Regions from separate parts of the Homo sapiens genome. Here region 1 is linked to region 2. The links come from fine-mapping of genetic effects on gene expression. A gene starts in region 2. The other region holds a variant in brackets. All regions are shown on one strand. Distances are between the middles of the regions.

Region 1 (2,925 bases), 51 kb after region 2:
TCTGGCGCCAGTCATGGACTAGGGAAGGCAGCCTTCCCTTGGTGTTTAATCATTGGAGGGACACCTCTCTGATTATTCGTCCAGGTTTCAGAGGTGTCAGACCACGCAGGGACGCCTGCCTTGGTCCTTCATCCTTAGTGGCAAGTCCCGCTTTTCTGGGGAAGGGGCAAGTACCCCAACCCCTTCTCTCTGTGTCTCTACCTCTTTTCCACCTTTCTGGGGGGCAAGAAACCCCCAACCCCTTTTCCTTCACCCTGAGCAGCAAGTCCCGCTTTTCTAGAGGAGGGGCAAGTACCCCAACCTCATATCTCTGTGCCCCCATCCCTTATTTCCGTGCCCCAACCTCTTATATCGCTGTACCCCAATCCATTATTTCTGTGCCCTAACCTCTTATATCTCTGCACCCCAATCCCTTATTTCCATGCCCTGACCTTGTATCTCTGTGCCCCGACCCCTTTCCCGCTTTTCTGGAGGGTAAGAACCCCCAAACCCCTTCCCTCCATGTCTCTACTCTCTCTTTTCTCTGGGTTTGTCTCCTTCACTATGGGCAACCTTCCACCCTCCATTCCTCCTTCTTCTCCCTTAGTCTGTGTTCTTAAGAACTTAAAACCTCTTCAACTCTCATCTAACCTAAAATCTAAGTGTCTTATTTTCTTCTGCAATGCCGCTTGACCCCAATACAAACTCGACAGTAGTTCCAAATAGCCAGAAAACGGCACTTTCAATTTTTCCATCCTTCAAGATCTAAATAATTCTTGTTGTAAAATGGGCAAATGGTCTGAGGTGCCTGACATCCAGGCATTCTTTTACACATCAGTCCCTCTATAGTCTCTGTTCCCAATGCAACTCATCCCAAATCTTCCTCCTTTCCCTCCCACCTGTCCCCTCAGTCCCAACCCCAAGCATCACTGAGTCTTTCTACTCTTCCTTTTCTACAGACACATCTGACCTCTCCCCTCCTCGCCAGGCCGAGCTAGGTCCCAATTCTTCCTCAGCCTCCGGTCCTCCACCCTATAATCCTTTTATCATCTCCCCTCCTCACACCCGGTCCGGCTTACAGTTTCATTCCGTGACTAGCCCTCACCTGCCCAGCAATTTACTCTTAAAAAGGTGGCTGAAGCTAAAGGCATAGTCAAGGTTAATGCTCCTTTTTCTTTATCAGACCTCTCCCAAATCAGTGAGCATTTAGACTCTTTCATCAAATATGAAAAACCCAGCCCAGTTCATGACTCGTTTGGCAGCAACCCTGAGACACTTTACAGCCCTAGACCCTAAAAGGTCAAAAGGCCGTCTTATTCTCAAAATACATTTTATTACCCAATCTGCTCCCGACATTAAATAAAACTCCAAAAATTAAATTCTGGCCCTCAAACCCCACAACAGGATTTAATCAACCTCGCCTTCAAGGTGTACAATAATAGAAAAAAGTTGCAATTCCTTGCCTCCACTGTGAGACAAACCCCAGCCACATCTCCAGCACACAAGAACTTCCAAATGCCTGAACCACAGCGGGCAGGCGTTCCTCCAGAACCTCCTCCCCCAGGAGCTTGCTACAAGTGCCAGAAATCTGGCCACC[A/G]GGCCAAGGAATGCCTGCAGCCCAGGATTCCTCCTAAGCCACGTCCCATCTGTACGGAACCCCACTGGAAATCGGACTGTCCAACTCACCCGGCAGCCACTCCCAGAGCCCCTGGAACTCTGGCCCAAGGCTCTCAGACTCCTTCCCAGATCTTCTTGGCTTAGCGGCTGAAGACTGACGCTGCCCAATCGCCTCGGAAGCCCCCTAGACCATCATGGATGCCGAGCTTCGGGTAACTCTAACAGTGAAGGATAAGTCTGTCCCCATCTTAATCAATACCAAGGCTACTCACTCCACATTACCTTCTTTTCAAGGGCCTGTTTCCCTTGCCTCCATAACTGTTGTGGGTATTGATGGCCAGGCTTCTAAACCTCTTAAAAGTCCCCAACTCTGGTGCCAAATTAGACAATACTCTTTTAAGCACTCCTTTTAATTATCCCCACCTGCCCAGTTCCCTATTAGGCCGAGACACTTTAACTAAATTATCTGCTTCCCTGACTATTCCTGGATTACAGCTACATCTCATTGCTGCCCTTCTTCCCAATCCAAAGCCTCCTTTGCGTGCTCCTCTTGTATTCCCCCACCTTAACCCACAAGTATAAGATACCTCTACTCCCTCCTTGGCAACCGATCATGCACCCCTTACCATCTCATTAAAACCTAATCACCCTTACTCCAATCAATGCCAATATCCCATCCCACAGCATGCTTTGAAAGGATTAAAGCCTGTTATCACTTGCCTGCTACAGCATGGCCATTTAAAGCCTATAAACTCTCCTTACAATTCCCCCATTTTACCTGTCCTAAAACCAGACAAGCCTTACAAGTTAGTTCAGGATCTGCGCCTTATCAACCAAATTGTTTTGCCTATCCACCCCGTGGTTCCAAATCCATATACTCTCCTATCCTCAATACCTCCCTCCACAATCCATTATTCTGTTCTGGATCTCAAACATGCTTTCTTTACTATTCCTTTCCACCCTTCATCCCAGCCTCTCTTGGCTTTCACTTGGACTGACCCTGACACCCACTAGGCTCAGCAAATTACCTAGGCTGTACTGCCGCAAGGCTTCACAGACAGCCCCCATTACTTCAGTCAAGCCCAAATTTCATCCTCATCTGTTACCTATCTCGGCATAATCTCATAAAAACACACGTGCGTTCCCTGCTGATCGTGTCCGATTAATCTCCCAAACCTCAATCCCTTACAAAACAACAACTCCTTTCCTTCCTAGGCATGGTTAGTGCGGTCAGAATTCTTACACAAGAGCCAGGACCGCACCCTGTAGCCTTTCTGTCCAAACAACTTGACCTTACTGTTTTAGCCTAGGCATCATGTCTCCGTGCAG
Region 2 (2,925 bases):
CTCTGGGAAGCTGCTCTTGAGGATTTTGTATCTTTTCATCCCGCTAGTGGGCCTAATTTGCAGTGACCCCCTTTACCTTAAGTCATAGTATCTGCAACAAGGCCTCATTTCTTGGGGAAGATAGCAAACTTGTAGTTAAAAGGCTCTAGGCCCAGTCCTAGATATAGGAATTGAATAAAATCATGAATGTAATCATGTAATCATTTCCTCCTTGTAAATTAAGATTTGTTACTAATTTATGTATTCAGCTGGTAAATGAGCAACTTTCTATTGTGTCAGGAATGGGGGCAGTAGATTAAGACAGAACCACTAACAGGGAGGAGGTCATTGCCTATGGAAATAGCTGTTGCAGCACTCTTCTGAGCCTGAATTTTAAAAATAACAAACATGGCTTTGCTTCATGATCTATGAAGTACCATAGGAATTCGGGAGGTCTGAAAACGAAAAGTATCAAGTTCAAGCTAAAAGATTAAACTACAAGCATTTATTAGGTTGAATATGAGAATAAAATAAAAGTGTAGTCAACCCTTGATTATTCACAGATTGGCTAGAGTTTATGATTATCAATGCCCTTCGATTCTCCTTTTGCTTCCAACTACCAACTATTGAATATTTTTTTGCTCATTAACACCTGTCTAGGAGTGGGAAGGTGAAATGCTAATCAGCCAATTTGGTTAATTGTTAGTGGCTGCTATAATCCTTTTTTTTTTAAGTTGAGATAAGGAAATACTTTACTTAAATATTGGCTGTGGACTACTAAACTTTATGTCACCTTCCCTTCCTTTTTACTGCATGGATAAATGCAGGTATTTAGTTCTTAGTAAGGTAGTAGAGAGAATTAAAAAGATAGTAATTCATCAATCCAATGTTTTTCAAGTATCACACTATAAATTCACATTACATAATTCTTATTGGCCAGTGTTCAGAAAATATTAATCTTCTACAATATGACTACTTTAAAAGAAAGCTTCAAGATTTAATAGTTGCAATTTTAAGTGTAGCCCTATATAAATAACTGCACTTGCTAAGTGGATTTGTATCAACAGGAACATAACTTCTAGAAAATTACTCAAGACTACCCTCCCTTTTGCCTGTGATAGACATTTGGGACCCTCCCCAAACCAAATAAGGGAAAGAAGAATGTTCTGAGCATTAAGAGCACTAAGAATAAATCTGAGCTCTCACGGATAAGATTACTTTCAACTCTTTATTTCATGTTTTCTGACATAGACCCCAGGATCTGTAATTATCTTAGAGAAACTGCGGGGGCTTAGATGGTACTTTGTAGTTCATTTGGTTTTTTTTGTTTGTTTGTTTGTTTTTTGCCTTTCTCTCTTTGGGGCTGAAGAGCTGGTGTGTCTGTGTGTGTGTTCCTCTAGAGTGCCAAAAAAGAAAAAAAAAAGTGCTGAAGAGTCCTAGGGAGATGAGGCTATTTTTGTTTGAAGCTGATACTTCTAGCTGAGCCACAAGTGCTGCTTGGAAAGGGCTTAGGTTGTTTCCAGGGGGAGAACTCTGCAGAGGAGAGGCAAAGTTCAACAGGACAACAAAGAAGCAGCAGAAACAGCCAGGAAAACGAAGAGCCCCCAGGTTTTGACACAGAACCCTCCACCAGAGTTCTCAAATCCCCAAATACTCTGCAAAGTGCAACTTGACGGGAACTTTTCAACTGACTTTTACTTTTGACGACCACCATGACTGAGATCACTGCTGAAGGTATTGCTACCATTTTCCGATAGTATCAAGTAAGGAAAAAAAATATGCAAATCGACAGCCACATTAACTGTCGATGTGTCCATTTAAAATGTTGCTTTAAGGTAATTGCCTTGGTCAATGATTCTATACAGGATCTGAGAAGTGGATTTAGGAGCTGAGAGGCTGCCAGATCTGTATATTGGGGGAGCAAAAAGAGATTTCTCTTAAATTTTGCATGTGGAAACTGTTCTCTGCTATACCAAAGGCCCCACTAGTTAACAGTTGTTACTCACACCTCTATAAATAGCTATGGTCATGTAACATGATGGCCGATATCTTATCCAGCAAAAATTACAAAGTTTTCAAGGATGGAGACCATGATGAACTTAAAATATTACACTAATGCTTACTTAAAATATTACACTAATGCTTACTTAAACTTAAAAAGTAATTTGAAGCATTTCTGCTTTATGATATTTTTAAATGGAGACCTTAAATTTGTTTTTCCTTTCCTACTAGGGTATGTAAAACACACATACATATATATGATTTATATACAATTTAAGACATAAGTGTTCCCATAAAATTTGTATTTATTTGACCATTAATGGAAATTCAGAGATAAAGACTGGAATTCCACAAACTTACTGTGAATCAGTATGATTTTTAAAATAAAGCAATTAAGTGTTAGAATTCTGGTTCTTTTTGTAAATTCATTCTTCATTTTCCTCTAAATGGTAAATTCTATCTTTATGTTACAATAAATATTTTCTGTTTCAATGCTTTACTGAAAGCTACATACTATAATACATATCTTCTATTTGATGGTTGCTAGTTATATATATTTATATTTCATATATACTTCATATATATATGTACGTATTTCTTAGAATGAAGGAAACCTTCAAAACTAAATTACTTTGAATACAGACACAGTCTGGTTCTAGTTGAGGTAAAACTTTTGGAGGTGGATCTAAAATTTGCTTCTGACAGCTGTAAGAAAATCAGACAGGTGGTGCTCTTAACAACTTCCAAGTTAAATGCTGTGCTGGTTTGCTTTGAATAATACAACTGAAAAATAGAATATTTGTTTTTATTTTTGAGGGTAGAAATTAGTATGGACACACAGTAATTTCTGTTGGAGATTTTTAGTCAATATTTATAAGAAGTGCCTTATTTGTACCTTGCACTGAGAAATTCAGTCTGACACCTCGTATTAATAACAATTACTGA

Alleles and levels. Positions count from the first base shown, and alleles are read on the strand shown. Sizes are in standard deviations (SD) of each study's normalised expression.
For the expression in iPS cells of the gene that starts at base 1,517 in region 2, A is the low allele of the variant in region 1 and G is the other (large effect, 1.1 SD a copy in iPSCORE).

Evidence for each region.
Region 1: its variant is fine-mapped to the expression of TRDN in iPS cells (iPSCORE, PIP 0.95).

Annotation. Positions count from the first base shown.
Region 1 is chr6:123,584,378-123,587,302 of GRCh38, reverse strand. All of the region lies in intron 1 of TRDN (triadin), which reads left to right. Among named protein-coding and RNA genes, the nearest start is that of TRDN, 51 kb to the left of the region's middle. The variant A/G (reference allele first, on the strand shown) is at 1,577.
Region 2 is chr6:123,635,542-123,638,466 of GRCh38, reverse strand. TRDN (triadin) reads left to right here and starts at 1,517. Exons shown (of 41, transcript NM_006073.4): 1 at 1,517-1,713. The coding sequence starts at 1,692. The region is part of intron 1 of LOC105377981 (a long non-coding RNA gene); the gene reads right to left.